Regions from separate parts of the Homo sapiens genome. Here region 2 is linked to region 1. Evidence: fine-mapped expression QTL. Tissue or cell type: whole blood. Region 1 holds a variant in brackets; the other region holds the start of a gene. All regions are shown on one strand. Distances are between the middles of the regions.

Region 1 (16,185 bases):
ACTTTCTTTTTCTTACAATTTATCTATTGATAAAAGCAGACTGGGCCAGTAGAGTGTTCTGCACCCTGAATTTTGCTGATTACTCATGGTGCAATTCCGTATGTTCCTCTGTCCTCAATGTTTCTTTTCTTTTCTTTTTCCCCATAGGTTACTGGGGTACAGGTGGTGTTTGGTTACATGAGTAAGTTCTTTAGTGGTGATTTGTGAGATTTTGGTGCAGCCATCACCCGAGCAGTACACACTGCACCCTATTTGTAATCGTTTATTCCTCACCCCTCTCCCATCCTTCTCCCCAAGTCCCCTAAGTCCACTGTGTCATTCTTATGCCCTTGCGTCCTCATAGCTTAGCTCCCACATATCAGTGAGAACATATGATGTTTGGTTTTCTATTCCTGAGTTACTTCATTTAGTATAACAGTCTCATCCAGGTTGCTGTGAATGCTATTAATTCATTCCTTTTTATGGCTGAGCAGTATTCCACCGTACATATATATCACAGTTTCTTCATCCACTCATTGATTGATAGACATTTGGGTTGGTTCCACGATTTTGCAATTGTGAATTATGCTGCTATAAATGTGTGTGCAAGTATCTTTTTCATATAATGACTTCTTTTCCTCTGGGTAGATACTCAGTAGTGGGATTGCCAGATCAAATGGTAATCCTACTTTTAGTTCTTTAAGGAATCTCCACACTGTTTTTCATAGTGGTTGTACTAGTTTACATTCCCACCAGCAGTGTAGAAGTGCTCCCTGATCACCGCAGCCATGCCAACACCTACTGTTTTTTGATTTTTTCATTATGGCCATTCTTGCAGGAGTAAGGTGGTATCACACTGTGGTTTTGATTTGCATTTCCCTGATCATTAGTGATGTTGAGCATTTTTTCGTATGTTTGTTGGCCATTTGTATATCTTCTTTTGAAAACTGTCTATTCATGTCCTTAGCCCACTTTTTGATGGGACTGTTTGTTTTTATCTTAATGAGTTCACTGTAGATTCTGGATATTAGTCCTTTGTCAGATGTATACATTGTGAAGATTTTCTCCCACTCTGTGGGTTGTCTGTTTAGTCTGCTGACTGTTCTTTTTGCCATGCAAAAACTCTTTAGTTTAAGTCCCAGCTATTTATCTTTGTTTTTATTGCATTTGCTTTTGGGTTCTTGGTCATGAAATCCTTACCTAAGCCAATGTCTAGAAGGGTTTTTCCAATGTTATCTTCTAGAATTTTTATGGTTTCAGGTCTTAGATTTAAGTCCTTAATCCATCTTGAGTTGATTTTTGTATAAGGTGAGAAATGAGGATCCAGTTTCACTCTCCTACATGTGGCTAGCCAATTATCCCAGCACCATTTGTTGAAAAGGGTATCCCTTCCCCACTTTGTTTTTGTGTGCTTTGTCGAAGATCAGTTGGCTGTTAAGTATTTGGGTTTATTTCTGGGTTCTCTATTCTGTTCCATTGGTCTATGTGCCTGTTTTTATACCAGTACCATGCTGTTTTGGTGACTATGGCCTTATGGTATAGTTTGAAATCAGGTAGTGCGATACCTCCAGATTTGTTCTTTTCATTTAGCCTTGCTTTGGCTATGTGGGCAATTTTTTGGTTTCATAAGAATTTTAGAATTGTTTTTTCTAATTCTGTGAAGAATGATGGTGGTATTTTGATGGAGATTGCATTAAATCTGTAGACTGCTTTTGGCAGTATGGTCATTTTCACAATATTGATTCTACCCTTCCATGAGCATGGGATGTATTTCCATTTGTTCGTGTCATCTGTGATTTCTTTCAGCAGTGTTTTGTAGTTTTCCTTGTAGAGGTCTTTAGCCTCCTTGGTTAGGTATACTCCAGAGTATTTAAATTTTTTTGCAGCTATTGTAGAAGGGGTTGAGTTCTTGATTTGATTCTCTGCTTGGTTGTTTTTGGTGTGTAGAAGAGCTACTGATTTGTGTATGTTAATCTTGTATCCAGAAACTTAGCTGAATTCTTTTATCAGTTCTGGGAGCTTTCTGGAGGAGTCTTCAGGGTTTTCGAGGTAAACAATCATATCGTCAGCAAACAGTGACAGTTTGACTTCTTCTTTACCGATTTGGATACCCTGTATTTCTTTCTCTTGTCTGATTGCTCTGGCTAGGATTTCCTATACTATGTTGAAGAGAAGTGATGAGAGTGGGCATCCTTGTCTTGTTCCAGTTCTCAGAGGGAATGCTTTCAACTTTTCCCTACTCAGTATTATGTTGGCTGTGGGTTTGTCACAGATGGCTTTCATTACATTGAGGTATTGTCCCTTGTATGCTGATTTTGCTGAGAGTTTTAATCATAAAGGGATGCTGGATTTTGTCGAATGCTTTTTCCACATCTGGGTAATGCTGGCTTCATAGAATGAATTAGGGAGAGTTCCCTCTTTCTGTATGTTGTGGAATAGTGTCAAAAGGATTGGTACCAATTCTTCTTTGAATGTCTGGTAGAATTCTGCTGTGAATCTGTCTGGTCCTGGACTTTTTTTTGTTAATTTTTAAATTACCATTTTAATCTCGCTGCTTGTTATTGGTCTGTTCAGGGTATCTAATTCTTCCTGATTTAAGCTAGGAGGGTTGTATTTTTCTAGGACTTTATCCATCTCTTCTAGGTTTTCTAGTTTATGTGGGTAAAGGTGTTCATAGTAGCCTTGAATAATCTTTTGTATTTCCGTGTTGTCAGTTGTAATATCTCCCATTTCGTTTCTTATTGAGGTTATTTGGATTTTCTCTCTCCTTTTCTTGGTTAATCTTCCTAATGGTCTATCAGTTTAATTTATCTTTTCAAAGAATCAGCTTTTTGTTTCATTTATCTTTTGCATTTTGTTGTTGTTTCAATTTTATTTAGTTCTGCTCTGATCTTGGTTATTTCCTTTCTTCTGCTGGGTTTGGGTTTGGGTTTGGTTTGTTCTTCTTTCTCCAGTTCCTTGAGGTGTGGCCTTAGAATGTCTGTTGTGCTCTGTTAGGCATTTAGGGCTATGAACTTTCCTCTTAGCACCGCCTTTGCCGTATCCCAGAGGTTTTGATAGGTTGTGTTATTACTGTCATTCAGTTCAAAGAACTTTTAAATTTCCATCTTGATTTCATTTTTGACCCAAAAGCAGGTTAATTTTCATGTATTTGCATGGTTTTGTAGGTTTCCCTTTTGGAGTTGATTTACAGTTTTATTCCACTGTGGTCTGAGAGAGTGCTTGATATAATTTCAATTTTCTTGAATTTATTATGGCTCGTTTTGTGGCCTATCATATGGTCTATCTTGGAGAAAATTCCATGCACTGCTGAATGGAAAGTGTCTCCGATTGTTGGATGAAATGTTCTGTATATATCTATTAAGTCCATTTGTTCCAAGGTATAGTTTAAATCCGTTCTTTGTTGACTTTCTTTCTTGATGACCTGTCTAGTGATGTCAGTGGAGTACTGAAGTCTCCCACTATTATTGTGTTGCTTTCTATCTCATTTATTAGGTCTGTTAGTAATTGTTTTATAAAACTGGGAGCTCCAGTGTTAGGTGCATATATATTTAGGACTGTGATCTTTTCCTGTAGGACAAGGCCTTTTATCACTATATAATGTCCCTCTTTGTCTTTTTTAACTGCTGTTGCTTTAAAGTTCATTTTGTCTAACATAAGAATAGCTACCCCTGCTCACTTTTGGTGCCTATTTGCATGAAATGCCTTTTTCCCCCGCTTTACTTTAAGTTTGTGCGAGTCCTTATGTGTTAAGTGAGTCTCTTGAAGTCAGCAGATAGTTGGTTTGTGAGTTCTTATCCATTCTGTGGTTCTGTATATCTTTTTTTCTTCTTTTTTTTGAGATGGAGTTTCGCTCTGTCACCAGGCTGGAGTGCAGTGGTGCAATCTTGGCTCACGGCAACCTCCACCTCCCAGGTACAAGCGATTCTCCTGCCTCAGCCTCCTAAGTAGCTGGGATTACAGGCACCCACCACCACGCACAGCTAATTTTTATATTTTTAGTACAGATGGGGTTTCACCAAGTTGGCCACAATGGTCTCGATCTCTTGACCTCGTGATCCACCCGCCTCGGCCTCCCAAATGCTGGGATTACAGGCGTGAGCCACTGCACCTGGCCAGTTCTGTATCTTTTAAGTGGATCATTTAGGCTATTTATATTCAATGTTAGTACTGAGATGCAATGTACCATTCCATTCATCATGCTATTTGTTGCCTGTGTACTGTGGTTTTTTGTTTTTGCTTTTTAAATTGTATTTTTGTTTTATAGGTCCTGTGAGATTTATGCTTTTAAAGAGGTTCTGCTTTGATGTGTTTCCAGGATTTGTTTCAAGATTTAGAGCTCCTTTTAGCAGTTCTTGTAGTGGTGGCTTGGTAGTAGCAAATTCTCTCAGCATTTGTTTGTCTGAAAAAGACTATCTTTCCCACATACATGATGCTTAGTTTCACTGGATACAAAATTCTTGGCTGATAATTGTTTTTGTTTGAGGAGGCTGAAGACAGGGCCCCAATCCCTTCTAGCTTGTAGGGTTTCTGCTGAGAAATCTGCTGTTAGTCTGATAGGTTTTCCTTTAAAGGTTACCTAGTGCTTTTGTCTCGTAGCTCTTAAGATTCTTTCCTTCGTCTTAACTTTAGATAACCTGATGACAATGTGCCTAGGTGATGATATTTTTGCGATGAATTTCCCAGGTGTTCTTTGTGCTTCTTGTATTTGGATGTCTAAGTCTCTAGCAAGGCTGGGGAAGTTTTCCTCAATTATTCCCCCAAATATGTTTTCCAAATTTTTAGATTTCTCTTACTCCTCAGGAACACCAAATATTCTTAGGTTTGGTTGTTTAACATAATCCCAGACTTCTTGGAGGCTTTATGCATATTTTCTTATTCTTTTTTCTTTGTCTTTGTTGGATTGGGTTAATTTGTAGACCTTGACTTCCAACTCTGAATTTCTTTCTTCTACTTGTTCAATTCTATTGCTGAGATTTTCCAGAGCATTTTGCATTTCTATAAGTGTGACCAATATTTCCTGAAGTTTTGATTTTTTTTTTATGGTTATCTATTTCCTTGAACATTTCTCCCTTCACTTCTTGTATCATTTTTTGGATTTCCTTGCATTGGGCTTCACCTTTCTCTGGTGCCTCCCTGATCAGCTTAATAACTAACCTCCTGAATGCTTTCTGGGGTAAATCAGAAATTTCTTCTTGGTTTGGATCCATTGCTGCTGACCTAGTGTGATTTTGGGGGGGTGTTAAAGAGCCCTGTTTTGTCATATTACCAGAGTTGGTTTTCTAGTTGCTTCCCATTTGGGTAGGCTCTGTCAGAGGGAAGGTTTAGGGCTGAAGGCTGTTGTTCAGATTCTTTTGTCTCACAGGGTGTTCCCTTGATGTAGCACTCTCCCCTTTTTCCTATGGATGTGGCTTCCTGAGAGCCGAGCTGCAGTGATTGTTATCTCTTTTCTGGGTCTAGCCACCCAGCAAGTCTACCAGGCTCCAAGCTGGTACTGGGGGTTGTCTGCACGAGTCCTGTGATATGAACTGTCTATGGGTCTCTCAGCCATGGATACCAGCACCTGTTCCGGTAGAGGTGGCAGGGGGGTGAAATGGATTCTGTGAGGATTCTTGGCTTTGGTGGTTTAATGTTCTATTTTTGTGCTGGTTGGCCTCCTGCCAGGAGGTGGCTCTTTCCAGAGGGCATCAGCTGTGGTAGTATGGAGAGGAACTGGCAGTGGGCAGGGCCCTAGAACTCCCAAGAGTATATGCCCTTTGTCTTCAGTTACTAGGGCGGGTAGAGAAGGACTAGCAGGTGGGGGAAGGGCTAGGCATGTCTGAGCTCAGACTCTCCTTGGGCAGGTCTTGCTGCAGCTGCTGTGGAGGATGTGGGTGAGGTTCCCAGGTCAATGGAGTTGTGTACCTGGGAGGATAATGGCTGCCTCTGCTGAGTCATGTAGGTTGTCAGCGAAGTGAGGGAAAGGCAGCAGTCACAGGCCTCACTCAGCTCCCACACAATCCGAAAGGCCGGTCTTACTCCCACCGTGCCCCCCCGCAAAAGCACCGCATCTATTTCTGTTTCCAGACAGTGGGCAAGCAGGGTTGTGTCCTCAGTATTTCTATTTCCTACAAATTGGCAGCTGGATCCAGAGGTAAACAGTAGATTTAGAGGCTTAATAAAACCTACATTCACTCTGATCTGCATTTTTTTTTTTGGTTTTTTGGAGACAGGGTCTCATTCCGTTGCCTTTGCAGTGGCACAATCACAATCACAGCTCACTGCAGCCTCTCAACGTCTCTGGACCAAGCAATCCTCCTACATCAGCCTCCCAAGTAGCTGGGACCACAGCATGCACCACCTGCAAAGCTAATTTTTTTTTTTTTTTATAGAGACAGGATCTCGTGTGTTGCCCAGGTTGGTCTCGAACTCCTGGGTTCAAGTGATCCTCCTGCCTCAGCCTCCCAAAGTGCTTGGATTATAGGAGTGAGCCACAATGTCCAGCCCAATCTGCTTATTAACACTCCACTGTTAAGCCTAAGAAGATAGCCAAAGATTGCCAAACATTTTAAGACAGCATCTAATATGACAGGGATCTAAATAATACAGAAGCTTGGAAAGTTAGAGCACATAGAGAAGAAAACTTCTATTATTAATTTGTCCAAGCTCAAAGAAATAACAGAAGACACTGCATCCAGGAAACAAGCACAGGATGCTATAGATAAGGAATATTTAGAAAAGGAACTCTCAGAAAGTAAAAAATAAGTAGCTAAAATTAAAGACTCAAATATAGTTTGAAGATAAAACTGGGGAAATCTCCCAGAAAGTAGGACCAAAAAGAGAGAAAGAGAGATTTATGGAATCCACCAACAGATGAAAAAAGACCTAAATCAAAGACTACCACAATAAAATGTTATAACAATGAAAGCAAAGAAAATGTCCTGAGCATTTCCAGAGGCAAATACACACACACACAAATAAAATACATTTTATTTAAAACTTCTTAAGCACAACACTGAAAGACTTAAGACAATGAAACAATTCTTTCAAAATTCTGAGGAAAATGTTTCCAAGCTAGTATTCTGTCTTAGTCCATTTCCTGATATTATAAAGAATACCACAAACTGGGTAATTTATAAAGAAAAGAGATTTATTTGCTTCATGGTTCTGAAGGCTGAGACATAGTACCAGCATCTGCTTGGCCATTTGGTGAGGGCCTTCTTTTTGCATCATCCCATAGCAGAAAGCAGAAAGGCAAGCAAACTCCACCCTCATAACCTAATCACCTCTTAAAAGTACCACCTCTAATACTATCACAATGGCAATTAAATTTCAACATGAGTTTTGGAGGGGGTACTTAAACCATAGCATATTCTACACTCAGTCAATTTAGTATATGGGAAATTAAAACATCTGCAAATACTGAAGGTCTCAAATATTTTGTCTCCCAAACACATTTTTTCAGAAAGTTACTTGAAGATGTACTCCACCAAATGAAGTCATAAACCATGAAAAGGAAGACATGAGATCCATGGAAGAGAGGATCCAACGTATTAGATAGGCAAAGAAAATCCACAAGATGATACCGCCCCTAAACAACAGCTATGCAGCAGAAAACAATCAGTCAAGATTGGAACAGATCAGAAGACTCCAGGAAATATTTATTCAAGATAAGAAAATGATAAATTACTCAATGTTTCTGAATGATATGAACAGGATATTTATACAACTGAGAATGGTTCGGAATTAATGAATTAGTGTTGAGAACACAGATAACTAATTAAATGAACAAGAAATAGAATTATCAATTCCAGGAAAAACAAAATACTGTGCAGGCAAGGAAAAGTAACTATCAAATCCTACATAGTTTAGCTGTGAATTATATTTATGTAATTGTCATAATGTAGTTAATGATTATGATATAACTATATTGGAGGATGGCAGGATGGGAAGTATGCTTGCATACAGCAATGTAGGGTGCTAGTCAAAGAGAGGTAAATCCTCCTCTTCCTTACTGAGAAGTCAATACATGAGGCCTAATTCTGAAAAATCAAGAAATATGATAAATTATAAATAAGGGGGCTAATACCAAATGAATCAGAGATTAAAGTGATTCTCTTTGAGAAATAGGAAATGACTCTCCAAATAATGTTAATATATAACTGATAAATAGAAAAGCTAAATTTAAACAAACACTGTTAGGTTGGTGCAAAAGTAATTGTGGTTTTTGTGATTAAAAGTAACAGTATTGCTGGAGCTATGGATAGTAGACACTCTTTCAAAGACAGCTGAACATATTTTATGCTACTATAGTTTTCTCTTTCATTGCTTTCAGGTTGTAGCTTAGGTCACATTTCTCACTCACAAGAGTGAGTGAGTGGAAAATTGTAAAGCAAAGCAGGATTACTATGGAAGGTAGCACTCCAAAGTATCCTGTAGGAATATATCCCCATCCCTAGCCCCAACCTGCCCCAACTATGGATCAAAGATTAAAGGCTGGGAAAACCAGCCTTAGAACTGACATCAAGTGCATATGTCAAGAGACCGGTCAGGACAGACCATGGACTATGGGCCTA[G/C]AGCATAAAAGCTGCCAGCTATGCAGCAGCAATGGCCACAAGGGATTAATCTGAGCTCAGTACAACTTGACCACAGAGAAAGGTGAGATTAAAATGAGTCAGACCCTAGTACCATGGGAAAATTTCATGGTTGCTTGGCAGCTCCTTAATAACCTATGGGCACAAATATTTACTTCTAACTGACCCCTTAAGTAAGGGGATTAAAGTGTCTGATGTATATAAAATACAATCGGCACAGCAGCACTGCTTTTAGAACAAGTATTCACTCTCTGAGATATGTTCAGCAATATAGATCAGAGTTAACATTTTGTGAACAAACCAGAAATCATACTGCTCAGAACCCATATGTTTCAGATCAAAATGAATAAATTTGAAAATAGGACTTGAAAAATAAGGCTCAGAATGTATATCAGCAAAGTGGAAAAGACTGGAATACGAAACATAATGCTTCCAGCACTGGGAGGACCCCAGATACAGGGAGGACCCCAGATACAATACACCAGCATTCCTTATCAAGAGTAAGGGAAATAGGCTGGGTGCAGTGGCTCACACCTGTAATCCTAGCACTTTGGGAGGCCAAGGCAGGAGCCTAGAAATTCAAGACCAGCCTGGGCAACATGGCAGAACCCTGTCTCCACAAAAAAAAACACAAAAATTAGTTACGCACGGTGGCGTGTGCCTATAGTCCCAGCTATGTAGGAGGCTGAGGGGAGAAGATTGCTTGAGCCCAGGAGGCAGAGGTTGTAGTGAACTGAGACTGCACCACTGCACTCCAGCCTGGGCGACACAGCCAGACCCTGTCTCAAAAAAAAAAAAAAAAAAAAAAAAAAAAAACAGAATGGAAATAATATTTACTAAGTACTTACTATATGCCAGGTTTACACCAGTACCTTAACGCTATTTCATTTAATCCTTACAATAAGTGTAGGAAGGGTTATTCTCTTTTCCAGGTGAGGAAACAGGCTTAGAGAAAGGATATAATTTGCCAAAAGCACGATTAGTTACAGAACTGGAACTTGAAACCAGAACTATCTGGCTCCAAAGGCCTTATCTTTCCATTAACCTCCCTGCAAAATACGTGAAACCCTATACTGAGATGTTTCACATCTATGAAAGGGCACTAAGAATTAGTAACATAATCACCTTATAGTAGATGAGTAGTATAAGACATCACTCAAAATTCCAGTAAAGATATACATGAACAAGATTCCTATCTTCCCCCTGGCAAAAGCAGTAGGTATTAATTTCAAATATGCCCACAGATACTTAAATAATATGTGCGTCAGCTAAAGTGATTTAAAGATGAGGCATAGATTTCCATCACTCTCAGGAAGAAGAAATTGTCTCTTCAGAATATATTCTGAACACTACATCGCCACCATTCACTTGAAGCCTTTATCACTCAAAAGCTTTCAGAGGAGGAAACCAATATTAAACATTCTTATTTAGGCTAAATTAAAAATGATTTACTTACTCTTGAAGAGGCTTCTAATTAAAAGAGTAAAAAATCGCTTTGACAAACATCACACTAGATGACATATGACTAGTCACTACAAGACTAAACATTGTACCCCTTAGTGTAGGTAGGGGGAAATTTTGTTCTCCAATGCTGTGTGCCCCAGGTTGTTTCCTCAACCAAAATTCAGAAACCTTCTCCCATCACTGCTATCCTCCCTTTGTTTTTACCAACTTAACTGAGGTGTAACTCATTCATTTAAAGTGTATCTGAATTGTGAAAACATATACACCCACGAAACTGCTACCAGAATCAAGATACAAACTACTTCCACCACCTATAAAAGTTTTCTCATGCACCTTGTAGTCCACCCCTGCCTTCACTCCCAGGCCCAGACAACTGTTGTTCTGCTTTCTGCTATGGTAGATTAGTTTGCATCTTCTAGAATTTTATATGACTGGAATCACGCAATATGAATTCTGATATGGTTTAGCTGTGTTCCCACCCAAATGTTATCTTGAACTGTAGTTCCCATAATCCCCACATGTCGTGGAAGGGACCCAGTGGGAGGTAATTGAATCATGGGGGTAGTTACCTCCATGCTGTTCTCGTGATAGTGAGTTCTCACGAGATCTGATGGTTTTATAAGGGGTTTTCCCTGCCTACACTCAGCACTTCTTGCTGCCACCATGTGAAGAAGGACATGCTTGCCATGCTTCCCCTCTGTAAGTTTCCTGAGGCCTCCCCAGCCCTGCGGAACTATGAGTAATTAAACCTCTTTCCTTTATAAATTACCCACGAGGTCAATAGTTCAAGACCAGCCTGGCCAACATGGTGAAACCCCGTCTCTATTAAAAATACAAAAACTAGCCAGCGTGGTGGTGAGCACCTGTAATCCCAGCTACTCGGGAGGCTGAGACAGGAGAATTGCTTGAACCCAAGAGGCGGAGGTTGCAGTGAGCCAAGATCACACCACTGTACTCCAGCCTGGGTGACAGAACAAGACTCCATCTCAGGAAAAAAAAAAAAATTACCCACTGTCAGGTATGTCCTTATAGTAGCATGAGAACAGACGAATACATACTCTTTTTTGAATCTGGCTTCTTTCACTCAGCATAATTATTTTGCAATTTATCTATGTGTATAATAGTTGTTTTGTATTCCTAAGTAATATTTTATTGTATGGATAGATTATATTTTGTTTATCCATTCTCTTATTAATGAATATGTGGATTGCTTACAATTTTGGCTATTACGAATAAAACTGCTATGAACAATAATATACAAATCTTTGTGTGAACACGTATTTTTATTTATATTGGGAAAATATGTAGGAGTAGAATGGCTGAATTTTATGTTAAGTTTATGTTCAACTTTTTAAGAGAATGCCAGTTTTGCAGTTTGTAACATTTTACATTCCCACCGGCAACAAAGTTCTAGTTGCTCCATATCCCCAATTGGTATTGTCAGCCTTTTTCCTTTCAGCCATTCTAATGGATATCTGGTGGTATCTCATTGTGGTTTTACTTTGCATTTCCCTGGTGACTAAAGCTACTGAGCATCTTTTCACATATCTACAATTACTCAGATATCTTTTGTGAAAGGTCTATTCAAATCATTTGGCCATGTTTTATTTTGTTGTCTTATTATTCGTTTTAGGAGTCTGTTATATATTCTGGTCAAAAGTCCTTTTTCATGTATATATGTATATATATAGTTTCACCTAGTCTGTGACTTTCTTTTTCATTTCCTTTTCTTAATGATATCTTCCAAAGAGCAAAATTTCTTGATTTTTATAAAACCCAATTTACCATTTTTTTTCTGTATGGTTTATGTTTTTGGTGTCTTATCTAAGGAATCACTGCCTACCCCAAAGTCACTTTTGTCCTACATTTTCTTCCAGAAGTTCTATAGTTTTAGTTTTTAGATTTATGTCGTATCCATTAAAATTAATTTTTTTGTATGGTGTGAAGTAGGGATTAAGGTTCATTTTTTTCACATGGCTATCCAGTTGTTCCAACCCCATTTGCTCAAAGTCTTTCCTTTTCTTCACTGAAATTGCCTTGGCACCTTTGTCAAAAATCAATTGACCATACTTGTGTGGCTCCACTTCTGGGTTCTCTCTTTAGTTCCACTGATCTATATATCTATCCTTTCACCAATACCACACTGTCTTGATTACTGTCACATCATAGTTCATCTTAAAATCAGGTAGTATAATTTCTCCAATTTTGTTCACCTTTTATAAAACTGCTTTGGCTAATCTCGGTGGTTTACATTACCACAAATTTTTAAATCAGCTTATCAATTTCTTTTTTTTTTTTTTTTTTTTTGGAGATAGAGTCTCACTCTGTTGCCCAGGCTGGAATGCAGTGGCATGACCTCGGCTCACTGCAATCTCCACCTCCAGGGTTCAAGCAATTCTCCTGCCTCAGCCTCCTGAGTAGCTGGAATTACAGGCATGTGCCACCATGCCCGGCTAATTTTTGTACTTTTAGAGAGATGGGGTTTCACCTTGTTGGTCAGGCTGGTCTCAAACTCCTGACCTCGTAATCCACCTGCCTCGGCCTCCCAAAGTTCTGGGATTACAGGCGTGAGCCACCACGCCCAGCCTCAATTTCTATTAAAAAAAAAAAAAAACCTTCTGAAATTTGTATTTGAATAGTACTGAATTTATACACAGATCAAGTTAGAGAAAACTAACATGTTAACGATATTGAATCTTCCAACCCAAGAACATGGTAAATTTGTCTATTTAGATCTTTAATTTCTCTCCATCAATATTACCTAATTTTCAACATACAGGTTTTATACTTCTGTTAAATGTATTCCTAAGTGTTATGGTTTTTAATGCTACTGTAAATGGAATTTAGTCCCATTTTCCTATTGTTTGCTGCCATTCAAGAAGCAGAACTCTCTGTCTTTGGTACAATTTATCTGGTAAAAGAGGGTAATTTCTACATGGAATTATTATTTCATAAACACATTATAGCCACATTATCTCAAAGTTAACCACTTTTGTTTTTGTTTTTAACGCAGTAAACATTTCTCCAGTGTCTACTATTATTTGAAAGTACCAAAACAAGGGAGGAGAAACATGGAACCATATAACAAATACTACATAAGCTCACAATCTAGTGGAAAAATGAGTAAATCATTTTAATATATGCAGTATATGCTATAACTAGAGAATGTATAAAATATTCAGGAAGTCTTAAAGGATCCAGAGAAGTTCACCAGAGGCATTCAGATAGAAGAAATACATTTTTCTACTATTGTATACTATCAGTTGTACTGAAAAGATATACAGATCAATTAACAATATTGAGTCTTCCAACCCAAGAACACAGTAAATGCTGTATAGATGCTATTTACTATTTCCTTTTTAAAAACACCTTTATTAGAATAAGTACTACATGAAACTACTCTTGAATATAGTGTAAGTGATCATATTAATATTTACTTTCTTAAATCCATGTACTTTCTTAAAAACAAGATTGCCACAAGAAAGAAATAAGTTTGCTGAGATTTAAAAGTCTTTATGTTAGAAGAGAGAGTACCTCTTACCAAAATGAGCATGTTTCCTGTTGCTAGATTATGCTGGTAGGTATGCGGTGGCATCTATTTCAACTTAGATAATAACACAACTCTATAAGCACAAGCTGTTTCCGGTCGAAATTATTAGTCATGAACACCAAAATCTGAATGAGCTCTATCCAATCTCAAACTGCTTGCTGAGCAATTCCACAAGAGAATTTGATGGGGACAGCCAACTTTAGAGCCTAGAAAGTGATCACGTATTACAAGACGGTGGTTATGGGTACTAGGTAACAGCATAAAAGCAGCACTGACCAACTGAAAGGCAAGAGATGATACTGACGCTTTCTTTGTCCTATTGAAATTTTTTTTCTATGACTGGCACTAACTCTGAGACATAAATCATATGAATACCTTGCTCAGTTGCAGATTCAGATTTAAACAAGGAGCTAAGTGCCAAGTTTTCATCCCTATGCCAAGTGTTTGAAAAGTAAGTTAGAAACTGTAAATCTTATGTCTTTTCTACATATATATATCTAAATTTATTCTGTCTTGTATGTAAAGAGTTGTCTCAATATCTATAGAATATTATATTATGAACAAAAAAGAATTTCTAGACAGTTTAGAGATGCTTTATCCAAAAGAATCTAAAACATTCACGGACAGGTTTCTGGCTGTCTACTGTGAAACCCCTAAAAATGTAAAATTCAATATGTGTACTTTTCTAGGTGGAAAGTCCACAGTTTCCAGTTTCTCCATGAGATCCATGAACTAAAATAGCTTTAAAAACACTATATTTAAAAGAAAAGAAAAGAAAAAGAGACCGGGTGTGGTGGCTCATGCCTGTAATCCCAGCACTTTGGGAGGCCAAGGCAGGTGGGTCACCTGAGGTCAGGAGTTCGCGACCAGCCAGGCCAACATGGTGAAACCCCGTCTCTACTAAAAATACAAAAATTAGCTGGCCATGGCGAAAGGCGCCTGTAATCCCAGCTACTCATGAAGCTGAGGCAGGAGAATTGCTTGAACCCGGGAGGCGGAGGTTACAGTGAGCCAAGATCGTGCCATTGCACTCCAGCCTGGGCAACAGAGTGAAACTCTGTCATAGAAAGAAAGGAAGGGAGAGGGGAGGGGAGGGGAGAACAAGAGGAGAGCACAGGAGAGGAGAGGAGAGGAGAGGAGAGGAGAGGAGAGGAGAGGAGAGGAGAGGAAAGGAAAGGAGAGGAGGAAGGCAAGCAGGCCAAAAAAAAAACCATTATATTAAAGAGTTAAACGTTTTTAAAAAGAAAAAAGATGTAAACAATTAAAAATTAGGTAATCTCTGAAAGAGTACAGCAATGAAAGAAAACACAAAGGAAAACCATTTTACTATGTATTTCAAATAAAATCCTAAAATTAAAAGGTAAGTCAAAAACTAAGGATTTTTTTTTCTACTCTCTCCCCTTCTTGAAAGCGAAATATTTTATGGAAAATACACAACCATATATTACATTCACAGCAAAGTGTTTTTATAACTCAAGACAGGTGGAGATGTTATAAAGTAGGCATTCTGATTTACTGCTGATATACTTTTCCAAGTCTGGACCACGTCAATGGATATCAGGATGGAAGGGGTTAGAAGAACTCAAGGTTGCTTGGAAATTAGGCTTAATAAGATATGATTAATGAGTAAATGTACGGGATGGAAGAGAAGAAAGACTTGAGGATAATACTCAGGTCTCTGGCTTGATCCACTAAATAATTGAGAGTGAATATTAAGATTAAGAACACAGAAGAATTGCTGGTTGGTAGAGAAAGATGATGAGTTCCATTTTGTACATGTTGGATTTGAGGAATCTGTAGGATATTCAAGAAAAATACAGTTAAATATATGAATCCAAACTATAAAAAAAGCTAAAGTGAAGATATACTTGGATATTATAAGCATTTTTATAAAAAGTATCTAGATTGCTAATGGAAACGTGTTGAATAAGAAGACAGCCCAGGACAGAACTTTGAGAAATCAACAGCTAAGAGACCAGCAGAGTAAAGGAGCACATAAAGGAAATCAATAAAGAAAATCAGAAAGAGGAAGAAAATCAGGAGTGAGATGTCATAGAACCCAAGGGGCAAAAACAGTTTTGGAATTCTTAAAGACAGAGAAGAGAAGGGGGACTAACCTGTATTAAATGTCTACTAGATACAAAGTATTTCAAACACTTATACTTTAACAAGTATACTCCTCATTTTGAGCATTAGGAACCTATCATTCAGATAGTTTAAATAATTGTCCAAATAAAACTGTAAGTGCTAAAACAGAATTTTAATTCCAGTATTTCAAAATCCATGTTCATTCCACTGAAACTAACGGAAAGGACTGAGGAAGCACTCAGAAAGATTTGGATGGTCAAGCCCTGACTTAAATTGTGGTTGATTTCAGCACAACTGACTGCCAAAAGCCAGTTTTATCCTGATGTTATCATAGCACCTCAGCTAGGAAAAATTAAAATGCTAATAATTTTTAAAATCCAGATACTTCATAAATTAGTCAGATGTTCTTCAAAAAGGTGGGTAACTGTTGAAAGCAGAGTTACTTACTCATTCAGAGAAGATAACAGAACACAGATGTCTTATGCCACAATGGATTGACAATTAGAGCACCTGAGTTCCCAAGAACATTAG
Region 2 (16,185 bases), 56 kb after region 1:
CTTATGATAAAACAAATGGGTGAGGAGTTGCTTCTTATGTATGGATAAACAAAGTTGTTTCTCAAGATGGAATCTCTTCCTTGTGAAGATGTGAATACTGTTGAAAGAAATGACAAAGGATTTAGAATATCCTATAAACTTAGTTGATAAAGCAATAGCAGGGATTGAGAGGAGTGGCTCCAATTTTTAAAGATCTACTTGCATAAAATGCTATCAAACAGCATCACATGCTGCAGAGAAATCTCTCACGAAATGAAGAGTCAATCAATGTGGCAAATTTTGTCTTATTCTAAGACTTGGAACCAAATCAAATGTGCAACAATGACAGACTGGATTAAGAAAATGTGGCACATATACACCATGGAATACTAAGCAGCCATAAAAAATGATGAGTTCATGTCCTTTGTAGGGACATGAATGAAATTGGAAATCATTCTCAGTAAACTATCGCAAGGACAAAAAACCAAACACCGCATGTTCTCACTCATAGGTGGGAACTGAACAATGAGAACACATGGACACAGGAAGGGGAACATCACGCTCTGGGGACTGTTGTGGGGTGGGGGAAGCGGGGAGGGATAGCATTGGGAGATATACCTAACGCTAGATGACGAGTTAGTGGGTGCAGCACACCAGCATGGCACATGTATACATATGTAACTAACCTGCACATTGTGCACGGTACCCTAAAACTTAAAGTATAACAATAATAAAATAAAAAAATAAAAAAAATAAAGAAATTGCCACAGCCACTATTATCAGTCAGCAGCCATAAACATCAAGGCAAGACCCTCCGCCAGCAAAGATTATGACTTGCCAGAAGCTCAGATGATCATTAGCATTTTTTAGCAATAAAGTATTTTTTTAGCAACAAAGTATTTACATTTTTTTTAGATATAATGCTACTGCATACTTAATAGACCATAATATAACTTTTACATGCACTGAGAAACTAAACAATTGGATAAGACAAAATTTGCCACATTGATTGACTCTTCATTTCATGAAAGATTTCTCTGCAGCATGTGATGCTCTTTGATAGCATTTTATCCAAGTAGAACTTTAAAAATTGGAGCCTCTCCTCTCAATCCCTGCTATTGCTTTATCAACTAAGTTTATAGGATATTCTAAATCCTTTGTCATTTCAACAGTATTCACATCTTCACAAGTAGATTCCATCTTGAGAAACAACTTTGTTTATCCATACATAAGAAGCAACTCCTCACCCATTTGTTTTATCATGAGATTGCAGCAATTCAATTTGTGTGACTTACATTCTTGACATATTCGCTTTATTCCGGTGGAGCAGAACCAAAGCTACAATATCTGCGAGACATGCTTGTACTGTCAATCTAAATTGGCAAAGCTTCAATTATACACTTTTTGTAAAAGTGCAATTTCATTACATTCAGTGATATATTGTAAACTGTACTGCCTACTGAAGATTCTTGAGTGACCACATCTAATGAATATGTAATAATAATTTTTAATTCAAATATCAACTATATGCAAATAAACTCTTGCAAAACAGAAGTGGGGAAGTAATTTTCTGCACCACTGACCTGTACTTATGATACAAAAATTAATCAAGGACCTCACAAAATTTTTTTAAAGTAATTTTAAAAAAAGAAAACATTCCAAACATTTCTCTATTAGAATCAACAAGTTCAGTATTAGAATATTTATCTACATTATATATTGTAGGCCAATTAATAACAAAGGAAGAGAACTGTGAAGTACACAGAGAGAACAGACATCAGACTGAAGAAATGCATATGGATAGAGGGGTGTTTATCAGAAAGAAAAATACAGAGACACAAAAAAAGAAAAATACATGCACGAAAAAAATACCAAAACAGGGCTGGTCCGATGGTAGCGGGTTATCAGAACCTATTAACAGTAGTGTCACTAAAGTTAGTATACAACCCCCAACTGCTAAATATGAGTGGCTTTTAAAAGAAAAAAAAACACAAGCTGCTTTAGCAGCTTTGATTCGTGCCACGCACTACTGTTCATCAGGTCAAAAAGTGGTAATTTCTGAAATACCAATGAAGTGTCTGGCAGTTTAAAGTAGTCCTTCCTGTAGTAAGATTCTCAATTTACTATCTATTATTTACTTTTAGCTCAATTCTAAAAGTTTTGCATGCATAAGGAGGACTAATGGGTTTTTTAAATACACCTAAAAAAAAGAAGATTTTAGAGTTAAACAAATATACCTCAGGTTATCAGGTGACAGATACAGGCCTGTTTGCCTGCTTGTAAGTATCCAAAGTCCTTATCTGGCTGTGTTAAAAGGCAAAGGTTGACTCATTGACTAATCTCTTACATAAGAAAACGGATCCCTTAAATTTTTAAGAGTAAATGTCCAAAATGCTCTCATGTCCCCTTAGTTTATTAGCATAGTATTCTTTCCTTTTCTCACTTTCAAAACAGAAAAACTCTAAATTCTGGCTTGAAAAACCATTTCCTACATTTAAAAGAACAGGGTCACTTACTTTTATGGAGCAGCATCTCCCTTCTGTGGCCTTTTAAGGTATTACCATTTGAAAATAAAAAGCAGATGGTATACTATTATTTCCAAATTACCAAACTGAAATAAAATTTCAAGTCATTTTGCATTTTAAGTTCTACAGGCATATACTCCACAGCTTATCTGCCCTGTGGGTTAGATGAACTGAAAACTAGGGGTTACTTACATCCATTCTTAAAAACAGAGAAATTTTATCTTCCTTTAAACCTCTACACAAGATTTAACAGTAACCCATGAAACTGCTGTAGACAATATTATTTAGCCACCACTGTCTACTTTAATTCCTTGTCCATGTTTTAAAAATCAGGTTCCTGGCTGGGCACGTGGCTCACCTCTATAATCCCAGCACTTCGGGAGGATCACTTGAGCCCATGAGTTAAAGACCAGCCTAGGCCACATAGTGTGACCTCGTCTCTATTTAAAAAAAAAAAAATTCACATAAAAATCAGAATGATCCAATTTCTCTTGAAAAATCAAAATTGCTGGCAAAACTGGGACCACATTCTTGCACGGCAACAATCTACTGAATCTAAGTGGTGGCCTCCACCATTCCATATGGGCTCTGGACAATGAAGCTGGATATCATTTATCACATGGCTGGTACTGTCATTTTTCTAGTACTCAGTGGTGTCACTCATTTAACACCTGCCTGACTCCTATAGGGATGTGAATGTGTGATTCTTATTTTACTCATTAATCAATTAATTAAATCCTTTTTTCCACAGATAATATAAATTTCATTCATGTTTCACAATAAATCACAAATTCGTGGATTAAATATTTTTATGGTATGGTATTATGGGATAATCATAAATTCACAAAGGTGAAGACTCACCTACATTAACAATAGACCCTCCCTGTTGTTGAATCATAGTCCTCATGGCAGCTTTACAGGTCAGCATGGAACCCAAGAGGTTAGTATGAAGCTGAGATACCATATCTTCAGTTTTTGTTCTTACTAAAAGACCATCCCTACAAAAAGAAACAGCATATAATAGCATATAATAACAAGATAAAAACCAAAAAGGTCAAGACTAATGTAACATTTTTACTGAGAGTGCAAGAAGTGCTTCCTATCTGAGCTAGAATAGCTAGAATACCTAGAGTCCCATTTTGAACTTGGCTTGAGAAACATTAAAATAACAATTGATAAACCAGAAAGGATCCACTTGGAAGACAGGTTGCTACCCCTTCTCAGCTTGAGTGGCAAATATTCTTAACCCCTAAAAAGTAGTAACATATAGCCAAAATAGTTTGAATGGCCTGAGCAACTGCCATACTAAGCCTTGTTTAGCAAGAAAATTAATATGTTATCTAAATATTCTCTCCTAAATTCATCTTTTAAAAAATAATATCCACTCCATGATTCTATTAGTATTAAGTTCACAAACTGGCAAAACTTATCTGTGGTGACAAAACTCAGAAAACAGTTACCAACAAGGAAGTATTGAGAAGACACTACCTTCTGGAGCACTGGAAACATTCTACGGCTCAATATGGGTGATGATTACAATGTTAAAATCGACTCAACTGGACATTTATTATATGTTGTATCTCAATATAAAGGAAAATAATTTATGGATTGACAAGTTTTAAAATAGTTTTTTCTCCCAGTTAGAAGCAAAATAAACATATTAACTTATACCAATCAAAGACATATTAGGAATAAAAGTTTTAAATATATATATAAGAAACTTATTTAAATCTGTGACCAACCTGTTAATACCAGCTGCATTTACCAAGAAATTTACTCGACCTAAATGTTTCTCCAGCTCTTCAAATGTATTTTGAACATCATGTTCTTTAGCAACATCACAGCTAAATGCCAAATGATCTCCTACACAACAAAGTTAAATAAGAATTACTTATAACTCAAATTTTAAATTTACTCAATACACATTTGTTAAGCATCTATCTAAGATGGCAGGCCTGTGCTAATCTAGAACCTAAAGATTAAAAAAGTAATGTCATGAGGCCTGGCTTTCATAGAGTTGGTCTAATGAAACTGGGATGCGGGAACAAAGAGGAAATAAAGTACTACTACAGAAAGTTAATTTTAAAATTTTCTTTTTAATCAACAAAGGGGGGAGGGCTTTTTCAAGTTATAAAGGCTCTGTAAGATTCATCTAATATTTATAGCTTTAACACTGAATTCATGCTACCCAATTCGACAGTCTTCTGGGTTTTATATTCCTTTTTTGAAATTTATGTCTAATTCTGTCAGGTTTTTGTTGAATTAGTTTCTTTGGCCCTGAACGGGAACTCTTGGGTTTCTTCTTTTTAAGTGCTACGGATGCACTATGGCACATATATTATAACGACTATTATTCAAACCTGACCATCAGGAGAGATGAGACAACACAGGAAGCTATAAAAATGCTAAAACTACAAACCACGGGGGGAAAAAAACACTTTTTACTAAAAGCAACTGTTACTTACCACTTTTAAAAAATGGTTAAATGCCAAAAAAAAACTACACTTCAAAGGAAAACAAAGCATTCCCTATGTAATCTACCATTTTAATACTCTAAAATGTAGGATTGTTTTTAAAAGCTAAAACAATTCTTTATTTTCTGTCTGACCTTGATAAATATGCTTACACCAACACTACCCCATCAAGCCTTTGGAAACAGTAAGCGACCCGGGGAATTATACTTTCTAGATGAAAACCAATCACTCATGGAACACGATTCAAAGGAATGCAGGGCCCAAAAGCATCCTGTGTCTCTCTTACTCTTGGTTTTCACCCGAAGACTTGTGTCCACAACCACCTTTGAAAGCCCAACTAATGGCTTCAATCCAGTCCAGCAAACACTGATGGCTTGGGGTGACACAGTAAGGGTCACCACTCTTCCCCTCCTTTGTTAGAATGGTAAGGAATATGAGCTTCAAGAAGCATTCACTGACACTCTCCCTGACCTATAACTTACAGAATCTTTTTTCTTTTAGAGAGCCCAATAGTCTCCCAACCAGCACTGAACAGGTGATACCAAACCGATCAATAATGTTAACTTAAAAATGAACAGCCACACCTGGCGTCTATAGTCCCAGGTCCTTGGGAGACTGAGGCGAGAAGATCTCTAGAGCCAGTAAATCAGGAGTTGGGGTCCAGCACGGGCAACATAATGGGAAGCCCTCTCAAAAAAAAAAAAAAAAAACCAGATACACAAAAACAGTAAGAGCCACAAGACGCACCCCTAGGCCTCTATTCTCCCCATGCCTCCCTGATAGTAAATGAAGTATAATTTTGTCCATTCTGGTGATTAAACAAATAGCATCTTCGGATCTAACGTCCTATTTCTCCCTAAACTCAATGAAGAGTTATATTCACAAAATGACTAATCCATTCATAATAAGCCGGAAATAAAAAACCCTGAAGTTTAAATGCAATAAAAAAGAATTTGGCAGAACAAAGTTCAATTGTCCATTTGCAAAACTCACCAAAACAATTTAATAACATTAAAGCAAACCAGGTATATCTCAAAACTGGCTGGTACTCAAAAGGGTTTCTCTATCAAACACTGCTTTGTGCATTCGCGCAGGGCCAAGGCACGGCCCTTGGGCAAAACTGAAGGGAGCCGTTGGTACCTGCACTCCCACCTTTCCTGCCTGAACTCCTTTCGACCCAGCCCTGTCTCCGGGGGCCGAGAACTCGCCCTTTTCCCTACATTAAAAGTAAACTGTTACGTGGCTCTCTCCCACAACAGGGAAGCTCCTCAGCGTTAGCACTAGCCGCAGGGCGGAGGGTGCGTATAGCGGGGCCTCAAAAGACTACGAGGTCTCAAAGAACACCCCAAGTGTTCAGCCCTCGGCGGCAAGCTGCGTGGCCGGCATTCTGCGAGGCATAGGGAGATCGCGGGTTTCTGCACGAGACGCATTCTACCCTTGGAACGGGAGAGCGCCTGCACGCGGCTACATCGAGTAACCCTAGAGCCCTAAAGGCCAGACCCGCTCTTTTTACAAAGGAGATTTTCTTTAGGCGCCTGGACCGCGGCCATACAACTGGACAACTCCAGTTTGGTACCTACCGCCGAGGTCACCGGCGGCGGCTTTGGCCCCTTCCAGGTTTCTGGCAATGACCGCCAGTCGGTAGCCTTTCCGGGCCATTAACTGGGCCACAGCTCTGCCAATGCCTCGGGAGCCTCCAAAAACAGCACACACTTTGTCCATCTCGGAGTCACAAACTCGGAGGAAAGAGGGTAGGGAGTGGGAGCCCCTCTCCAGGTTCCCTCAGGCTTTTAAACAACCGCGGTTCCAAAAAAAAAAAAAAGAAAAAAAAAGGCAAACCGCAAAAAAAAATAACGCCGCTCGACACCTCCTGCAGCCGCACAATAGTAATGCAAGACGCCGTGAAAAGGAGGAAGAGCTCGACGTCGCCGCGTCGACGTCATCACGCACGGACTCTTCCGCGCCACACCTAACAAATACGCCGACGAGAGCTCCCCGCCGGCGGAAGAATGGCCTGGAGAGGGCCTCGATGCTTGCTGGGACCTGTAGTCTTGACGCATGAGAGCAACTGGCGCAGGCGCGCTGCTCGGTGGGGAATGTACTTGTGGCACTGAGGGGGATCCTCTGTCCCCGCTGGGTCATATCAGTCGGGATTCGAGCCCCGGTGACCAATCGACCCGGTTTGTTCGGAACTGACAGGGTTGTCAAGACGCTGGGCTTTCCCTGGCAAACCAAGACGACCTGATCACGTAGTTAGAACCCAGAGAAAGCATTACTGGGCGTGAGCCGGTCGGGGCTCCGGTATTTGCCCTTCGCCCAGGTGTTGTTTTGGCTACAGACTTGATGTCCTACCTGTTGAAGAAGTCCCCAAGAATCGCACCCACACCAAAACCTACCCTACCTGTTCCTCCCCCAGGTTGCTGTAGAAATGGACCTCTACCCGCCCAGATGTTACCATTCATCGCGAAGGGTGTCGTGAAGATGAATGCCCTGTCGAACATCATCCAGCAGGAGGTCAAGGAATTTTAACTGAATGATTGAATAGTCTTGCAAGATCTATGAAACAAGCTTCGGCTGCTGTAGAGAAACAAAAATGGGTTCCTGCAATTCTAAATAAGATGTACTGGGTGCTCTGAGAGTTAATAAGCTAAAAAATTCAATGTTTGTTACAATTATAGTGTAAACAGAAAGCATTTCTGATACAATATTATTTTACTAGATTCAGAAAAGTATGAGCCATGGTCCCTACCACTAAAAAAACTACAACCCAGAACTACAGGACTAATACACATGAAACACTAGGAGGTATCCAAAATCATACTTAGTAAAATGCAAAATTATATTAACACAAGAGCTCCGAGAAAATGGAGATCAGTGAAGAATGAAGGGGTGCATGGAAAAGCTGGATTTGAGGGCTGGATGAGGTTTGAAAAAAGGAAAACAAGAGCAAAAAGTCTATAAATAAGCAAGTTGAGCATTAATTTAAATTTGTTATTCCTATTCCATTTAGATCCAAAAAAAGATTTGAAATGGTTTGCAAAAATACATGAGTATTTGAATTTAAAAGGCAAAGAGGACCACTGCCCCTTCTCCCACAAGGCCAGAACAATAAATTAGGTCAGTGGAAAAAATACGAATAAAGTCATGCTATAAGAATCTATTTAGTATTAAAGAAGAGATTCATAAACTTAGAGTTTCCTGCCAGCGAAAGCAACAAAGGAAATATAATTACAAGTGGTAATTTCTGTAAGAAATCAGCCTCCTGGTTATGCAGCAGAGAAGCCTGAGCAAAACTCCCTCCTCATAGGTCCTCCTAAATGGCACACTAAGCATTGTAGTAGACAGTGAGCTTCATGAAAAGAAAAAGAGATTGTAAGGCTGTTTTCATAGCATCTATTAGACTTTATTAAAAGCAAATACAATAGGAAGTTAAACAATATAAGCAAACAGTCACACATAAAAATTGTGTCTTTGAAACAATATATGTTTGAAACAATGAGGAAACAAGCCTGAGGAAATTTGGGATGGTGCTATATTATAGTCAGCTTTAAAGTCAGGTGCCAAGCATTAAACAGGCCTTTAACTGCAGAAGTAATAAGATAAGAGCTGCATTTAAGAACTATTAGCAGGCCAGGCGTGGTGGCTCATGCCTGTAATCCCAGCACTTTGGGAGGCTGAGACAGGAGGATTGCTTGAGTCTAGAAGTTCAAAACCAACCCAGGAAACACAGCAAGACCCCCACCCCCCCGACCCCCATCTCTACAGAAAATACAAAAAAAAATTAGCTGGACATGGTGGCCTACCTGTGGTCCCAGCTACTCGGGAGGCTGAGTTGGGAGGATCATGTAAGTCCAGGAGGTCAAGGCTGCAGTGAGCCATGATTGCACCACTGCAGTCCAGCCTGCATGACACAGCAGGACCCTGTCTCAAAATAACAGTGTTCTAAAAAACAAACAAACAGTTTCCCAGTGATGTAAAAATGGGTCAGATCAAATTTGTCTATTCACTTTCCTACTATACACTATGCAATCTTGGAAAGAAAAAACTGTTTTACATAAATTACCAATATAAGGGTCAGCCTAAATGCCAACTGTATTCCTGCACCTTAGGTCAAACCAGAGAGGTTTATCTTTTGAACAGTTCTCTCCATTTGCTAGGAAAATGATTATTTTTTTTTCTACACATTGTTATTTTAGCAAAAAAAAATGGTTTTTAGATCTATGCCATCTATCATGAAGATCACTAACACATGATATGAGGTGACATTCAGAATTCTGAAAACCTTCCAACTTTTCTCACTGTATATATACTGTAAATGGATAAGCTGGGCTTTTTATTCAACACATACCTCAGGTTAAACCTCAAGGTTATTATTTATTTTTTTTCCCTCTTAATACAATATCACCACTATCCCGGGTGAGAATACATCTATCACAGCACATCACCCATTAGCTGAGAAGGTTACAGCAGGGGAAGTTTCTCTGTAAGCCCCTGATAGTGAAGTGAGGATCTGTAAATTAAACTGGGTCTCCCCTACCCAGCAGGACATTGAAGGAAGCCATTAGAATGACCCACCTTTAGTCTTTCCTTCTCACTAAACATGCCACTTTTGTGGTAATATTTTAACCATATGTTATACTTTAACTTAAATCCACATAGGATATATTTTCTCTTGGCTCCCACAATCGAAGGAGAAAATTCCTTATGTATAAGGACTGTTATACAAATTTTTAAATATGCATACCTAGTATTACTTTTCTGATTACAAAAGGAATACCATTTAATTGCTAACAGTTAGAAAACATAAACTTTTTAAAGTAAATAAAAACTCATTGAAAGCATTGTACACTTTAAGCGTGTGAATTGTATCGTATGCAAATTATATCCCAATGGAACTGTTATTGAAAAAGATGTAATTTAAAGCCTACTGCCCTGTTATACGAAATTTGAATCTGCAACTAATTATAAGGGGGTTGTACCTTTCATGAATATTTTTTTCATACGTCAAGATTTATAATGCCCAAGATTCCAAATATGCAGGAAAATTTATTTATAAGAAATTTATGAATTATGATTGAATATTCATTGAGAATCCTCTTTACAAATGCACCATACTAAGCACATCCAGCTTATCAGATCCATAATTGAAGCATAACCCTTCCTGCCAGCAAGCAGTCTCCCAGGATTCTTCAGGCAGTGATGATAATCTGCACGACCCAAATTGCATGTGGCCAGCTAACTTCTCCATACAGACCATGCTCTTCTTTCAAGAAGAAAGATTAGAAAGCTGCCTTAGTGTGGCTGCACAGATATAACTTTTATGATTAAAAAGCATGTTGATTTCCTCATTGGCATTCTTGTATCCAATCTGCTGGGTAATCTAAATTGTAAGGAATGTACTTTTTATCACTTACAAAAGTTTATTTCATTTTGATTGGGAACAAAAAATGTGGCCCATGAGCTTGTTATTTTGTTGAATTGGCGTTTATGCCTCTGAGGCTGCCCACCGAGACCTAAACCTGGCACTCAGTTGCCTAAGGCAGAAGCATGGAGTTTATTCCTTCCCTCTCTCAACATCCCACATCCAATCAGTCACAAAGTCCTGCTGATTCTACTCCCTAAATACCATTCCAACTTCTACACATCCATGCTTCTCCAAACACTGTCTTCTCAACCTCGAATGCTCCCACTGCTTTCCCTGGTAACATCTGATTTATCATTCAAAATGTGGCTCAAACATCTCTTGCAATGGAAGCTTCTCCTGACCCAAAGGAGGACATGCTGATGTCCTTCTTTACCCGTCCTCTTACCTTGTATGTGTCTTCAAGTCTGTATTTCATGGAGTTACTGTGACGTCAGAATCCACATAATTTTAGGAAGATAGTGAATAGATTCTCAAGGATCTGTGAACCTACCAAGCTGAATACAAAATCTCATGTGCTTTTTAGATGAGTAGCTTCTTGAAAGAGGGTCCACTTCCTTCACTGGGTTCTCAAGGGGAACTTTCACCTAAAATGGTTAAGTGCCAGGTGTAGTGGCTCACGCCTGTAATCCCAGCATTTTGGGAGATGGAGGCGGCAGGATCACTTGAGCCCAGGCATTTGAGACCAGCCTGGGCAACATGGTGAGACCTCATCTTTTTTAAAAAAACATAAAAAATAAAATAAAATGGTTAAAAACTTTCTGTTTTTAATTGCCAACTCTTTGAATCCAGAAATGATCACATTGGTTTTTGTTTCCCTGTTTGTAGCACAGTTCCTAGGGCTTGTGAATGCTAAATAAATGAGTTAACAAATGAATCAATGAGTGAATGAAATAACTCACTTAAAAGGAATTTATTGCTATAAGCAAGAACCAGTGTCGATACAGCTATGATTAAGATAGACCTGGTGCCTGTTTTCGTTGGGAAAATAATCTGGCAAGGAAGACAGACATTAAACAATTAATCATGCCATCACTATTTAATTCCAATGGTGGGAAGAACTATAAAGGAGAAGTACAGGCTGCTAGGAGGGATCATAACTAGGGGCATTGATCCAATATGGAGGCCTGGGGTCAGAGAAGGCTTCTTCTTTCAGGACATAATGTTCTATAAAGTAAATGAATAATAACAAAGAAAGATTGCAAAGAATGATAACTACAGCTACTATCCATTCATTATGTTACAAAGCCAACTAGGTGATAACATAATTTATACATGAAGAATAAAATTCTGAATTAAAAATTCACCCTTAATAATGAAAGAGATTGTTAGTCAAAGTAGAGTTAGTATTACGCCTAGATGAGATCACAGGTTGGACATTTCACCAGGAAGTACCATGGGAGAGCATAATGCCTGAAATTTTATGAAACTCTTTTTTTTTTCCCAGCCAAAAATTTTATAATGGTATAAAGCCAGCTCTGGATACTTAAAATCAGGCCCCAAATGCAGCACGCCTGCCAAGCCACATAGAAGAGGAGAACTCAGTGTTCCTGAAATTAGTTTTAAGACTGGCCTCAATCCTCTGACCCCAGCCTCTCACTATTCCATTTCCATCTCTTTGTTTCAGGGCCTTCCCCCCTCTATCCTTCTGGCTGCATAGTCTCACGTGGCTCTCAACTCACCTGCTGCATTTCCCAGACTTAAGTGAGCCTTTCCCATCCAGGCCCTGCGGCTACTCAGACTCCTAGATCTGTATCAGAGGCACGGGCCTGGCAGCCTTCACTGCACTTGGGCTCTGAAAGACGTTCTCACTCTTGCAAGTCACCTGGGAAAGCCAGAATCGATACTGTATGGTTTAACATTTGAAACTGACTTGCAGGTAATGGCTTCTGCATTTCCAGAAGGCACCCGTGTGCCTGTAGGGATCTCATTTTAAGGATCACTGCTTTTTGTTTCTCATCTACAGGCTACAGAGACCCATCTCTCAGTTTGGATTTTGATTAAACAGTTATGCAGAGTAGAAAACTTGGGCCATACACAAAACTTAATTAAAATAAGCCTCCACTTGGGATTAATGTATGTTATTGACTGAATCGTGTCCCTCCCCGCTCCCCCCTCTCCTGCCATATTCATATGTTCAAGTCCTAACCTCCAATGTGGCTGTATTTGGAGATAGTGCCCTTAGGGAGATAATTAAGATTAAATGAGGTTCTAAGGGTAGGGCTCTAATCCAATAGGACACCAGAGAGCTTGTGCTGGGAATCTCTCTCTCTCTCTCTCTCTCTCTCTCTCTCTCTCTCTCTCTCTCTCTGTCTCTCTCTCTCTCTGTTGCCTCCCTGTACAAGGCCATGTGAGGACACAGTGAGAAGGCAGCTATCTGCAAGCCCGGAAGAGAAGCCTCACCAGAAACCAACACGATTGCACCTTGATCTCAGACTTTCAGGCTCCAGAACTGTGAGAAAATTAATTTCTGGTGTCGAAACCACCCAGTCTGTGGTATTTTTTTATGGCAGTCCCAGCAGATACAATGTGACTGTTTACTTTCTTCTCTACTACAGGCAAGCTGCAAAGTGCTGCTAAGTAATATCACACAGCCACTGCTGATTGTGTGAGTTGAGTTGGGGAGAGGTTGTTACTATGAGACCTATTCCAGAGCAGAAACAGGAAGATTGTGAATCTCATCCTCGTCACTTGCCCATGGCCTGCAGCATCCAGACCCCTCGAGGTCCTCTCCTATCTTCTTGCCAAAGCTTACTTTCAGGGAGGACTTGGAAATTCATTCCCTCTAGGTGGTAAATAATGTAACAGCATAAAGTGTTATGTCACCTAGGGACATGTAAATTGAGCCGAGAGCCAAGTGTTAAGCTAAAGGGATGACAATCTAACAGGGAAATATCATCTAGCATCTACCTGTCCAACAATATGAATCTACTGCGAGCTCAGGAACATCCCCAGTATCAGATGTAAAGCTCTGGGGATAAGAGGGCAAAGAAGGCAATTACCTGAATTGTGGAGCTCACATGTGTTGAGAGAAACAGACAAATAAGCAGATTACGATACAGTGTGATAAAGGCTGTAAATGTGAATGAAGTGCTATAGGAACATAGAGCTTCAGGCTCAGGCCAAATAGGCAGGGGGGCATGTGTGTGTGTAGACATCTATATATGTATACATATATACACATGTGTATATTTTATTATAGGTATACATTATAGGTATGTATGCATTATTATATGTATGTGTATACATGTGTTTGTGAGAGTGTGTAGGTGGGTGGGTGGGTGTGTAAAAGTAAGCCCTTACTGGCCAGACACGGTGGCTCACGCCTGTAATCCCAGCACTTTGGGAGGCCAGAGCGGGTGGATCACTTGAGGTCCAGAGTTCGAGACCAGCCTCACCAACATGGAGAAACCCTGTCTCTACTAAAAATACAAAATTAGCCGGGTTTCACATGCCTGTAATCCCAACTACTCGGGAGGCTGAGGCAGGAGAATCGTTTGAACCCGGGAGGCTGAGGTTGCGGTGAGCCAAGATTGCACCATTGCACTCCAGCCTGGGCAGCAACAGTGAAACTCTGTCTCAAAAAACAACAACAACAACAACAACAACAACAAAAAACAAAAGTAAGCCCTTACCAAGATAACAGCAAATGCTCATTGGATAACTTAAATGCTATGTGCCAAGTACACTGTCTACTTGTGTTTAATTCTCACAGCAAACTATGATGTAGAAAAATATTGCTACCCTTGTGTTTGCAAACAAGGAAGCCAAAGCACAGAGATGTTAGATTGTCCAAGATCACACAACTAGTAAGTGGCAGAACTTGTAGAATTTCTACTCAAGCAGTCTCGCTACAGAGCCTTCTCCCCAACCACTACATGATATTGTCTCTCCCTCATCTTCCCAGGAATCCTGAAAATGTACCATATACACATAAATCCAAATCTGGAAACTGACTTTAGATAGTTGTAATTGTAGTTGAGATTCTTTTTTGGCTGCAAGAAAGAGAAGCCCTCGAAAGCAATTCAAATATGTGTTTATGATGCAGAATATGACATCAACAAAAAGCAAGCTGGGACCCCGTGGAACTAGAGATGGGCCTCATTGGGAGCCCCAGGGACCACAGCAGCACATCCCTCTGCCCCCTTAATGCTCTCTGAGGCCGTAAGAGCCCCCTTCTCTGCTGTCCTCTGTTTTAAATTTCTCCTTCCTGCAGACCCACTTTATTTACTAATCACACAGTTGAAAATGGCTGAGCCCCATAGGACTTTTCAGTTCAAGGGATTAAACTCTGACTCCCTTTGTTCAAGACAGAGAATTGGATTGGTTGTTAATGAGGGGATAGATTAGCGCCTGTGGAGAGCAGTTCTCGGGGGAGGCAGGTTGCCATGTGAGTGAGTGGGGTGCTCAAAGGCGGAAGGTGCACCCGCAGCCAAGCACCATTGCCACAGGGGCTCAGTGTGGGCGGCCTTATTAAAGGAGGCTTGGCTGGGCATGTGCTCCCCAGCAGATCAGATACACCATACAAGCAGCATCCCCCTAGGGGATCTTTGCTCAAAATAAGCTCTGTTTTAAATGCAACATGTACACCATTTAGTCTCCTTAACAGACTACTGCCTTTTTCTCTTTTTCAAATATTATTAGCTGAGCTCAATGCCCCATGAAATCTGTAAATGTTTTGTTCCAAGTAACCAGTAGTGAGTCCCAGAACCAGCACCCAACATATAATAATATGAAGAGAAATGGAAGAGGAGGTGATAATGTATGAGGAGAGAGATACGAATTTTTAAGAAGTGAAACAGACACCAATCCTATAAGGAATATGAATCAGTCCCCTCTGGCAAGTAATACTCATAATTTGCTTAACTTACTGAGTTGAGGAGTACATATTTATGGGTCCCTATATAACCTATGAGTGGGAAAAAATGGGCCAAAATTCACCTTATTTTTAAAAATGACATATTAATTTATTTGGCTAATTTACTAGGCTAGCCATTAAACCACAATAATTTTAAATAAATGAGTATAAAGTAGATGATCCTTAACCAAAACTATGGAATGTATCCTTTTTCCCTTCTACTAAATAGAGATGGAATAAATCAGTTGAAAAGAATTGGCTTAGAAGGTGACAGAGGCCTGGCACCATGGCTCACGCCTGTAATCCCAACACTTCAGGAGGCCAAGGTGGGAAGATCACTTGAGCTCAGGAGTTTGAGACCAGCCTGGGCAACACAGAAAGACCCTGTGTCTACAAAATTAAAATTGAAAAATTATCTGTGTGTAGTGGTGCGTGCCTGTGGTCCTAGCTCCTTGGGAGACTAAGGTGGGAGGATTGCTTGAGCCCAAGAGGTCTAGGCTGCAGTCAGCTGTGACCATGCCACAGCACTCTAGCCTGGGTGACAGACAGAGACCCCCTGTCTCCAAAAATAAAAAAAGTGACAGATGACAACATGAATACTTTTCATTCACAACATACACTCTAACTGTTTCAGGCAAAATTCCATAAATATATATAAAACTGGCAATATAGCATCATATATAACTCTGGGTTTAGTCTACTGAATTTGAATTCTGGCTCTACCACAAGCTGTGTAATCTTGGGCAAGTTATTAAACTCTCTGGGTTAAGATTTCTTTATGCAAAAAATAGGGAAAATAATACTGGCATGAGGTTATTGACAGCCATAAGATAGGTTGATCCTATATAAAATACTTAGCACGATGCCATCGCCTTACAATTATTAATAATTAGTAGCACCTCCTTTCAATAGGAAATAGGCATTCTG

Evidence for each region.
Region 2: it holds the start of CBR4, and the variant in region 1 is fine-mapped to the expression of CBR4 in whole blood (INTERVAL, PIP above 0.99).

What each region holds. Positions count from the first base shown.
Region 1 is chr4:168,947,260-168,963,444 of GRCh38, forward strand. It overlaps LOC107986200 (a long non-coding RNA gene), which reads right to left. Exons shown (of 2, transcript XR_001741450.1): 2 at 15,266-15,360. It also overlaps a transcript of CBR4 not described here. Among named protein-coding and RNA genes, the nearest start is that of CBR4, 55 kb to the right of the region's middle. The variant G/C (reference allele first, on the strand shown) is at 8,535.
Region 2 is chr4:169,003,390-169,019,574 of GRCh38, forward strand. CBR4 (carbonyl reductase 4) reads right to left here and starts at 6,866. Exons shown (of 5, transcript NM_032783.5): 1 at 6,559-6,866; 2 at 4,247-4,367; 3 at 3,366-3,502. The coding sequence starts at 6,700. It overlaps CBR4-DT (CBR4 divergent transcript), which reads left to right and starts at 7,040. Exons shown (of 2, transcript NR_185919.1): 1 at 7,040-7,067; 2 at 7,395-7,671. It also overlaps the pseudogene RNY4P17. RefSeq lists enhancers at 5,867-6,816, 6,916-7,245, 12,757-13,257, 14,322-14,822.